2 separate regions of the Homo sapiens genome follow, and region 1 is linked to region 2. Evidence: fine-mapped expression QTL. A gene starts in region 2. The other region holds a variant in brackets. All regions are shown on one strand. Distances are from middle to middle.

Region 1 (5,366 bases), 52 kb after region 2:
TTGGGGGAGGCAAGGAAGGCAGTCAAGCTAGGCCCTTCCTGGGGGAGGGGGATTCAGCAAGCCCCCCAGGCTGCCCCATCCATTCCTCATCTGCTTAGTTACTCAGAATTGGCTTCCTTGTCTGCAAGCCAAGTATCCTAAGACAGGTGAGAGACCTTTTAGAAGGAACTTTTAGAGAGAGGAATGATGGTGCCCTATGCTGGGGCAGTGGCCAGGACATGCAGACAGGTGGACAGATGGAGACCTGGCATGTAGCTGGCATGAACAGGACATGGCAATAGATAAGAGGTGAAGAGGAGATGTCACTCAGGAAATTTCGTTCCAGCTCTTTAAGCCATTTTCCACCTACAGCCAAAGTGATATTTTTAAAAGGGAAAATTGGCTAAGCATGGTGGCTCATGCCTGTAATCCCAGAACTTTGGGAGGCCAAGGCAGGCTGATCACCTGAGCTCAGGAGTTCGAGACCACCCTGGCCAACATGGTGAAACCCCATCTCTACTAAAATATAAAAAATTAGCCGGGCATGGTGGTGCGGGCCTGTAGTCCCAGCTACTCAGGAGGCTGAGGCATGAGAATCGCTTAAGCCCTGGAGGTGGAGGTTGCAGTGAGCCAAGATCATGCCAGTGCATTCCAGCTTGGGCAACAGAGCGAGACTCCATCTCAAAAATAAATAAATAAATAAGAGGGAAAATCTGCCACCAACCATCTGAGATGTGCACATCTAGGAATCTATCTTACAAATATCATTGCACTTAGTCGGGTGCTGTGGCTCACGCCTGTAATCCTAGCACCTTGGGAGGCCGAGGTGGGTGGATCACGAGGGAAGGAGTCTGAGAACAGCCTGGCCAACATGGCAAAACCTATCTCTACTAAAATTTAAAAAAATTCACCAGGTGTGGTGGCGGGTGCCTGTAATCCCAGCTACTTGAGAGGCTGAGGCAGGAGAATCGCTTGAACCTGGGAGACGGAGGTTGCAGTGAACTGAGATCGTGCCATTGCACTCTAGCCTGGGGGACAGAGTAAGACTCTGTCTCAAAAGAAACAAATATCGTTGCACTCAAGCAAAATAAGAAATGCTTAAGGCTGGTGGGGCCTGGTGGCTCACACCTGTAATCCCAATACTTTGGGAGGCAGAGGCGGGAGGATCACTTGAGACCAGGAGTTCAAGACCAGCCTGGCCAACATGGCAAAACCCCATGTCTACTAAAAGTCCAAAACTTAGCCAGGTGCAGAGGTTGCAGTGAGCGGAGATTGTGCCACTGCACTCCAGCGTGGATGACAGAGTGAGACTCTGTCTCAAAAAAAAAAAAAAAAAAAGAAATGTTTAAGGCTATTCATTGCAGCATTGTCCAAAAAGATGGATCATACTAATTGTCCTTAATAGAGACTGATTAAGTAAAATGTCCTTTCCTACCCAGGAATACGATGTAGCTATTTAAAAAAAAAGCGTGGAAGTGCTTGTATACTGATATAAACAATCTCCAAGATATATTGTTAAGTGGAAAAAATCAGGGTGCAGAACAGTGTGTAAGGCTTGCATAAGAAGTGTCTGGGCTGGGCACAGTGGCTCAGCCTGTAATCCCAGCACTTTGGGAGGCCGAGGCGGGCGGATCACCTGAGGTCAAGAGTTCAAGACCAGCCTGGCCAACATGGGGAAAGCCCATCTCTACTAAAAAACACAAAGATTAGCTGGGAATGGTAATCCTAGCTACTCAGGAGGCTGAGGCAGGAGAATTGGTTGAACCCAGGAGGTAGAGGTTGCAGTAAGCAGAGATGTTGCACTCCAGCCTGGGTGACAGAGTGAGACTCTGTCTCAAAAAAAAGGAAGGGTCTGGATAGATTAGGTTCTGCTGCAGTAACAAACAATCCCAAGTTTAAGTGACCTAAAGCAACAAAAGTTCATTTCCTGCATACACCACATGTCTAACACAGCTTGTTGGGTGGTGGGGTGGCACTACACATAGTAGTCACTCAGGGCCCCAGCGTAGTAGGGGCTTCATTGCAGTTTGTGCTTCTACAATGGCAGGTGGTGAAAGGAAATGGGAAATTTGGTAAATCATACAATAGTCCTTAAAGCTCGCACCCAAAAGTGACACAAGTCACTTCTGCTCACATTTCATTGGTCAAAGCAAACCACATGGCCACAAGTAGCTTTCAAGGGGTGGGGAGAAGGGCTGGCATGGTGGCTCATGCCTGTAATCCCTGCACTTTGGGAGGCCAAGGCTGGTGGATCACCTGAGGTCAGGAGTTTGAGACCAGACCGGCCAACATGGTGAAAACCTGTCTCTACTAAAAATACAAAAATTAGCCAGGCGTGGTGTTGTGCACCTGTAGTCCCAGCTACTTGGGAGGCTGGGGTGGGAGAATCGCTGGAACTCAGGAGGCAGAGGCTGCAGTGAGCCGAGATCGTTCCACTGCACTCCAGCCTGGGAGATAGAGTGAGACTCTGTCTCAATAAATAAATAAATAAATAAAGGAGTGGGGAGACACAACATTACTATGGCAGATTATATTTTCTAAAGATGAGTGTAACAATGCATTCCCATCCCATGGGCACCTCTGCAATGGAACCTTGCCACCCCCACAGCAAGAGATAGAGTTTAATTTCCCTCCCCTTGAATTTGGTCTGACCTTAATGACTCTCTTGTCATCGGTAGAATATGGTGGAAATGATGCAGAGTGAAGTCTGAGGCCAGGTCAGGAAAGGCCATATGGCCTGGCTGTCATAAAATGCCGGCTCCCCAGAACTGTCCTCTTGGGCTCTTTCCTCACAGTCAGCTGCTGCTGTGAGAAGCCCTAGCCAAATGGAGAGGCCACATGTGTGTGCTCTACTGTGGTTGACAATCCCAGCTGAGCCCAGGACGCTGGGATGATCCAGTCATCCCACCCCCAGCACCAGACATGTGAGTGAAGAAGCCTCCATATGATAATTCTAACCCCTGGCAATTTGAGTCACCCCCAGCCATGCAAGTATCCAGCTGAGGTCCCTGGCATCTTCCCTGCTGAGTCCTGCCTGAATTCCTGACCCACAGAATCCATGAGCATGATAAAACAGGCCACTAAGTTTGGAGTAGTTTATAATGCAGAAGCAGGTACCTGGCATCACTCCTATAGGCCTGGAAGGA[T/G]AAAAGAATTGGAAATGTTTGGTGAACAACACTAACAACCACCACAGACAGTTTTGCTTATATATATGTTGCCACCTTGGGAAGGCCACGTGAGGCAGCAGAAATGCTGCTTGCATCTGGGAAGGGGTAGTTAAATGGCTGGGGATGGGGGTGGGAGGGAGGTTTTTCACCTCCCTTTTTGCACCTTTAATCTTGCATTGTGTGACTGGATGGCCTGTCTTAAAAACAATCAGCCGGATCCTGTCACTCTTACTCAGAACTCTCCAGTGGCTGCCTGTGGTAGGCAACCTCTAAGGTACCCCTGCCACCACGGATCTCTGCTTCTTCCTGGTCCGTGGATCTCTGCTTCTTCCTGGTCCGTGGATCTCTGCTTCTTCCTGGTCCGTGGATCTCTGCTTCTTCCTGGTCCGTGGATCTCTGCTTCTTCCTGGTCCGTGGATCTCTGCTTCTTCCTGGTATTCACAGCCTTAAGATCCCCTTAAGTGTCAGGTGGACCTCCTGACTCACTTTTTTTTTTTTTGAGATGGAGTTTTGCTCTCCTTACCCAGGCTGGGGTGCAATGGCATGATCTCAGCTCACTGCAACCTCCACCTCCTGGGTTCATGCAATTCTCCTGCCTCAGCCTCCCGGGTAGCTGGAATTAAAGGCACTCACCACCACGCCTGGCTAATTTTTTGTATTTTTAGTAGAGACGGGGTTTCACCATGTGGCCAGGCTGGTCTCAAACTCCTGATCCGCCCGTCTCGGTCTCCCAAAGTGCTGGGATTACAGGTGTGAGCCACTACACCCGGCATTTTTTCTTTTTCTTTTTTTCTTTTTTTTTGTTTTTGAGATGGAGTCTCGCTCTGTGGAAGTCTCGCTCTGTTGCCAGGCTGGAGTACGGTGGCTTGATCTCCACTCACTGCAACCTCTGCCTCCCAGGTTCAAGCAATTCTCCTGCCTCAGCCTCCCGAGTAGCTGGGACTACAGGCGCGTGCCACTACGCCCAGTTAATTTTTGTAGAGATGGGGTTTCACCATGTTGGCCAGGCTGGTTTTGAACTCCTGACCTCAAGTGATCTGCCCATCTCTGCCTCCCAAAGTGCTGGGATTACAGGCGTGAGCCACCAGGCCTGGCCTGCCCCCGGCCTTTTCTTTTTTTCAGAGTCTCGCTCTGTCGCCCAGGCTGGAGTGCAGTGGTGCAATCTCGGCTCACTGCAAACTCCGCCTCCCGGGTTTAAGCAATTCTCCTGCCTCAGCCTCCGGAGTAGCTGGGATTACAGGCGCTGCCCACTACGCCTGGTTAATTTTTGTATTTTTAGTATAGATGAGGTTTCACCATGTTAGCCAGGCTGGTTTCAAACTCCTGACCTTGGGTGATCTGCCTGCTTCGGCTTCCCAAAGTGCTGGGATTTCAGGCGTGAGCCACTGGGCCGGGCCACGTTTTTTTTCCCTAAGAGACAGGGTCTTGCTCTGTCACTCAGGCTCGATCACAGCTTACTGCAGCCTCCACCTCCTGGGCCCAATCGATCAGCCTACATCAGCCTCCCGAGTAGCTGGGACTACATGCGCATGCCACCATACCCAACTAATTAATTTTTTTGTAGAGATAGGGTCTCCCTCTGTTGCCCAGGCTGGTCTCAAACTCCTGGCTCAAGCAATCCTCCCTCCCTGGCCTCCTAAAGTCTTGGGATTACAGGCATGAGCCATGGCACCCAGCTTGACTCACTTCCAATGGAAGGAATGCAGCCAAAGTGATGGAATGTCATTTCCAACATGAGATTACTAAAAGATTGTGGCTACCATCTTACGTAACTCCTCTTGCTCCCTCACTGGCTCAGTCTGAGAGAAACCACCTGTTAGGTTGTGAGATGGAGAGACCCTATGTGGCAGGCAACTGATGTCTCTAGCCAACAGCTTTGTAAGTGAACTTGGAAGTGGATCCTTCCCCCGGCAGCCTCAGCTGACCCTCCGATGCAGCCTTGTGAGAGATGCTGATCCAGTGGCACTCAGTTAAAAAGTGCCGGGTTCCTGACCCATAGAAACTGTGACCCATAAATATCTTTTTTAAAAAGAGTTTATGGCCGGGAGTGGTGGCTCACACCTGTAATCCCAGCACTTTGGGACGCCAAGGTGGGTGGATCACCTGAGGTCAGGAGTTCAAGACCAGCCTGACCAATATAGAGAAACCCCATCTCTACTAAAAATACAAAATTAGCCAGGCGTGGTGGCACATGCCTGTAATCCCAGCGACTCAGGAGGC
Region 2 (5,366 bases):
GAAAAAGTCTTGCAGCCTCCCCTCAGCCCTAAAACCTTCCCGGAGAGGTGTGGGGGAGCACAGAACAGGAAGGTGGGGGTGGAGGGAGGAGGGTGGGGCTGTGAGGAGGGAGGGAGGGAGGGGGTTCTCCTTCTAAGCCTCCATCCAGTCCCATTTTATTCTCACAACAGGTTATCAAAAGGAAACTCAGAGAGGGGAAGTGTTTCAGCCAAGGTCACACAGCAAAGGCCCAGTTTCTGGATCTCAGTCCTCCCTTGTCTCATCTTTTCCACTCTGGGGATCCAGAAGTCATTGGCCCAGCCTCCCGCTGTGTGTAGGGGGAGCTCATGCTCTGGGGGTGGGAGAGACCGACCTGTCAGTGACTTGAAGGGTGATCGGTTTGGGGGTGGCAGACACGAAGTCCTGGTAGGAGGAACCCACCAGCCTCCCACCCACCAAGGCTGAGTGTGTGGGCTTCAGGGGCAACAGCAGCTGAAAGGAGGCAGGTTCTCAGAGGACAGTGACCAGTGGCCACCCACTCCCACCAGTCAGGGCAACTGAGAACTATGGGTCCACTGAGTTTGGCAAGTTAGGGGTTACTGGTGACCTTGGCCAGAGCAGTGCCAGAGAAAATGCGGGGAGGAGGAGACAGAGGACAGATGTCTGTCTGCATCCTATAGAAATGAGGGGATGAAGATAACCTGGAAGGGTGACGGGTGCGGAGACCAGGGGAGTGGGCTCTAGGGCATGCCAGCAGGGAACACCCTTGCTTCCCTGAAAATAGGGAAAACTGAGTGCAGGGTGTATGGGAACTCTCTATACTATCTTTGTAACTTTTCTGTAAATCTAACACTGTTCTAAAATAGAAAGTTTATTTAAAAATGTTGATGGCAAGAGGTGAGAGTGGGCGTGGCTGGAGAGTTTGTAGGTGGCTGGTGGGGAGGCAGGAATTTGAGGAAGGAAGAGCTTAGATGCATTTAGGGCTTCTGTTTTTTGGATGCAAAATTGAGTGTGCAGGAGGCTGGGGGGTGAGGGGAGCGGGGGGGGCGAGGAGCTGTGAGCTAGGACAAATCAAAGGAAGCTGGAAGAGGCTGAGGCCACAGATGCTCATGGCCAGCCATCTGCTGCCCCTCCCCGGCTGCAGGGTCTCCCTCCTCACCAGAATCAGGCTCTTCATGCCTAAGGGTGGGGGATGGCTGAAGCTCTGTCCCTCCATGGCTCTCCCCACTTCCCTTCCCCACCATGTGTCACCCACTCCCTTAGGGATCCCCATGGCAGGCCAACCACACCTACTGGCCAGTTGGTCTAGGGCACAGGGCCTGGCTGTGTCCCTGCCTGGGTGCCTCACTCTAGTGGTGGCCATGGAGAAATTGCCATGGCCTGTGGTCCCTAGACATAGTGGGCACTGACTTCCCAAGGCAGGGGCCTGTGAGTATTTTGAGTTTTAAGAGGGTTCTCCCAACTCCAAAGCGCCAGGAACACTGCCACATAGGCAGCCCTGCTCTCCTTCTCTTGGCATAGCCAATTACCCAACGCAGAACTCGGAGGCCTGGCTAGAACCACCTCCTCCTCCGCGGTGCGGTTGGGACCAGGTGAAGTTTGCTCAGGGAGGTCGAGGTTGGAGGCTTTGTAGTGGTGGAAAAGGCTTCTAAGCGCTGTGGACGGTTTCAGGGTCCCAACCTAGCAAGGAACGGAGTTCTGGAAGGCCCTGGCATGGTGTCCACTCCCTTGCAGGGGGTACTTTTCTGAGGCCCCCTCCCGTTCTGTGCTTAGAGCTTTAGGAGATAAAGGTGCCAAGAGGCTGGCCCTGAGCGTCCTTGGAGGAGCCCTGCCGTGGGAGTCTGGGGTTAGATGCTGCTTCCGGAACTCTACTTGGGACTCCTCTGGGAGGCGTGAGGCTTGAGAGAGAATGCAAAGGATCTCCTAGCTGGCCCCATCTGAGAGGGCACAGGCGTGGAGGGGAGGAGAGGCCTGGAATGGAGGGATAATGAGCTGGGTAGGGGCTGAGAATGGCCTGGAATAAGTGGTCATGGAGCCGAGATGGGGGGCTGTGGTTGGGAATTGGGAACTGGGATCAGGATGAGACTGGGATGGGTTGGACTGAAGATGTGCCGTGACACATGTTGGGGGGGACACGTGCTAAGCATGGGGCTGAAGCTGGGATGGGAAAGCAACTGGGGTGGATTTGAGGGTGGGATGCAGATGACAGTGGATATGATGGGATAGACTAGGCAAGGACCTCTCAGGGAAAGGAGACGGGCCAGGGGTGGGGTGTTGTGTGAGCTGGGTTGGGATGAAAATGGGTTTAACATGAGGTGGGACGCACCAGGAATGGAGATCAATGAAGCAATGGGTGGGGCGGAACCGGATTGGGACGGGGGGTGGGCGGGGGGAGGTGGGGACGGGACTGGGTTCGGGGCTGGAAGGAGGGCTAGCGCCGAGGTTACGGACGGGGCAGGTGAGGGTTCGGGACGTGGGTGGGGCTGGCCCTGGAGCGGCGCGCAGGGGCGGTGGGTGAGGGGCGCCCGGGGCAGGCCGGGAAGGGGGGGCGGGCCTCCCCCTGGGCCGGGCCGGGGCGGCGCTAGGACCGAGCGAGCGGAGGGAGCGAGCCGGGCGGAGCCAGCGCCCCCCGCCCCCCGCCGGCCGGCTCCCCTCCCCCGGCCGCTGGCTCGCTCGGCTCGCGACGCTGCAGAGGCTCCGAGGCGGCGGCGGCGACTCCCTCTTTCCCTCCCTCCTCCTCCGTCCGCCCGTCCGTCCGCGCGTCTGTCCGTTCGGCCCGGTCCGGCCCGAAGCATGGCCGGCGTCAGCTTCAGCGGCCACCGCCTGGAGCTGCTGGCGGCTTACGAGGAGGTGATCCGAGAGGAGAGCGCGGCCGACTGGTGAGCCCCCCGCCCCCGCCCCCGGCCCCTTTGTCCCCGCGCCGCCGCCGCGCCTTTGTTTCTCTCCCGCCCCGCCGCCCCGCCGCCGGGAAGGGAGGGGGACCCCGAAATGGTGCAGCGGGCCGGGAGGGCCGGGAGGGGCTGCCTTTGTGCGCGCCGGGGGAGGGGCCGGCGGGCCAGGCGGGGCACTGCCGGGCCCCGAGCGCCCGGAGGCGGCCCAAGGCGCGCGGTGGGAGCGGCGGCCGGACGCGGCCCGGAGGCGCGGGGTCCCGATGTGGGGCCCGGGGCCGCGTGGCCCTGCGGGAGCCCATCCCCCACCCTACCCCCCGGGCCCGGGGGACAGGTGTGCACGGGGCGGCCAAGGGCACCTTCGCCACCTTCGAGCGGGCGAGGTCCGGGCGGGGACGGGGCGGGGACCGAGCTAGCGGAGCCAGCGCAGCCTGCCCGGCTCAGCCCGGCCCGGCCACAGCACAAAGGAAAGCGAGGGCGGGGGAGGAGCGGAGCGGGCTGGGGGCCGGGCGCCCCGCCCACCGGGGGGCCTCTCGGAGTGGGCCGCCCTCCCCCCGAAACCTGGGCTGGAGTGAGGTGGAAGGATGTTTGCTGCCACATGGCGACCGCGAAGTGACTCCCTTACCGCCGCGGGTCGCGGAGGAGGCAGGGGTGAGCTCTCCTCCCCTACCTGAAGGGGACTGCGGGGACTAGGCAGCTGGGCTGGGGGGCACCGAGCTGCCTAAGGGGCCAGCTGAGATCCCTGGGAGGAAGCCCTCTGGAGAACAAGTGTGGAGGGAGCCCCCAAAGACGGCTGAAGGGGTGAACAGATCCACCGGCCCCCAGCAAGGGGCACTCGGTCCCTGATGGGGGAGGAGCTGGGCCGCCCCTCACCCCGCCCCCCAGCTGTTGTCTCCCGCTGAGCTGGGGGAGGGGATGGACCACCTGCTCTGGGGCTGGCGGCCCAGGGTGGTGGAAAAAGGAAACCGAGGGGTTCCTCACAGCCCCATCCTGGAATCCTTTAACCCCCCCGTAATACTCTTCTTCTAGGGAAGGTGCCCATCTGGTTCCTAGGCCTCCTCTCCCTGCTGGCAGATGGGAACAGGTTCTTCTTGAGGAAACTGAGGCAAAGAGGAGGGCAGGTCTGAGGGACCCCGCTTGGGCTGGCCTCACCCGCACACTGGGAGGGCAGCCAGGTGGGGACTCTGACCTGGGGGCTTCTGGAGGAGAGGATGAGATGGCTGGGCATCCATGGCATGGTACTGCAGCACTGGCCAGCAGCCAGGCCTGGAGGGATGGACGCGAGAGACAAGCTCTCGTGTCCTGCAGGTCAGTCACAGGAGAGGCCGGCACAGGCTCAGCAGGCAGGCGGCCCACCCATTGTCCCAGCCCTGCCCCAGGGGGGCTGAGATCATGGGAGGAGCTCTGGGCAAGTGGCCGGCTTGGCCTGGTGAAGGAGCTGGCTTTGGGATAAGGCCCCGCCTGGGGAGAAGCACAGCTCACCCCAGAACACCTCCTTTGCCCTCCAGCCTGGAGGGGTGTTGTCTACCAACACCCCATTTTCTCCTAAAAGCAGAGCTCTGGTGGCCTATTGCCAAGGCCACACAACCCCTGTTGCCCCACATCCTGCTCAACACAGGCCTGCCCCCACCCACCCCAGCAGCATCCGTGTGGCCAAAGCGAGTTATTCATCACTGGTGTGCGTCAGCCCCCATCTGGGTTGTGTGTGGGACACACACAGATGCACACATGTACCCTCGCACATGCACACATTCGTTCACTAAGGGCCCAGATAACATTTTGAAAAAGGGGTGTGAGGATCACTTTCTACACAAGAGAATATGAATACCCCAGGGCCCAGCATGGAACCAGGGGTGCAGTGAGGTCTGAAGACTCAGAGGCAGACCCTGCACATAGGTCCAGAGGGAGGGGTGTCTTGGGTAAATTGCTGTCTGCCCCCCGACCCTTACCTTGCCTCCAATGGGGAGGGGTGGTTGGGGGAGTTCACTCCTAGGTGGCAGGGCCTCTGAAGTGCACCACTACTCTGGCACAGGGAGCAGGGGACCCAGGAAATGAGGTTGTGTGGTGGGAAGGGCCACTGTTGTCCTGGTTGTGATATGACTCACTGTGATCATACACAAGTTCCTGGTCCTCTTGGAAAGAAAAGGGATTGGGCCCAGCACTACCTCGGATACTGAAGGCCTTTCTAGCACCACCATCCTGAGAGTGATGGTCCTGCGGGGTCCACCTGCCCTCAGCCCCCGACTCCAGCTCACCCTCCACCCCAGCTCACCCCCCATCCCAGCTCACCCCAGGGTCTCTGGAACTGCCACATTCCAGCTCCCACCTCACGCTAGTTCAGTTTATCTGGCTAGATGGCTTTTGAGTTGGTGTCAATATCACACATACTTCTGGTATGCGGTGTGCTGGACCCCAGGACCCAGAGAGCAGGATGTGCTGATTGACTGAGTCAGCGTTCCTGCCTTCACCAGGCTTACAGCTGGGGGCAGTGTCTGTCTC

Which allele goes with the higher level. Alleles are on the strand shown, and positions count from the first base shown. SD is a standard deviation of normalised expression in the study named.
For the expression in monocytes of the gene that starts at base 2,660 in region 2, allele T in region 1 goes with a higher level than allele G (large effect, 0.92 SD a copy in Schmiedel 2018).

Evidence for each region. PIP is the estimated chance that this variant, and not a neighbour inherited with it, causes the effect. A credible set is the group of variants that fine-mapping cannot tell apart.
Region 1: its variant is the best candidate, but not a certain one, in a credible set for the expression of DBN1 in monocytes (Schmiedel 2018, PIP 0.85).

The regions. Positions count from the first base shown.
Region 1 is chr5:177,418,778-177,424,143 of GRCh38, reverse strand. No RefSeq gene overlaps it. Among named protein-coding and RNA genes, the nearest start is that of GRK6, 5.2 kb to the left of the region's middle. The variant T/G (reference allele first, on the strand shown) is at 3,126.
Region 2 is chr5:177,470,928-177,476,293 of GRCh38, reverse strand. It overlaps DBN1 (drebrin 1), which reads left to right and starts at 2,660. Exons shown (of 15, transcript NM_001363541.2): 1 at 2,660-2,858. The coding sequence starts at 2,773. RefSeq lists silencers at 2,423-2,472, 2,483-2,862, 2,943-3,142, 3,173-3,542, 3,462-3,648 and enhancers at 2,797-3,298, 3,299-3,802.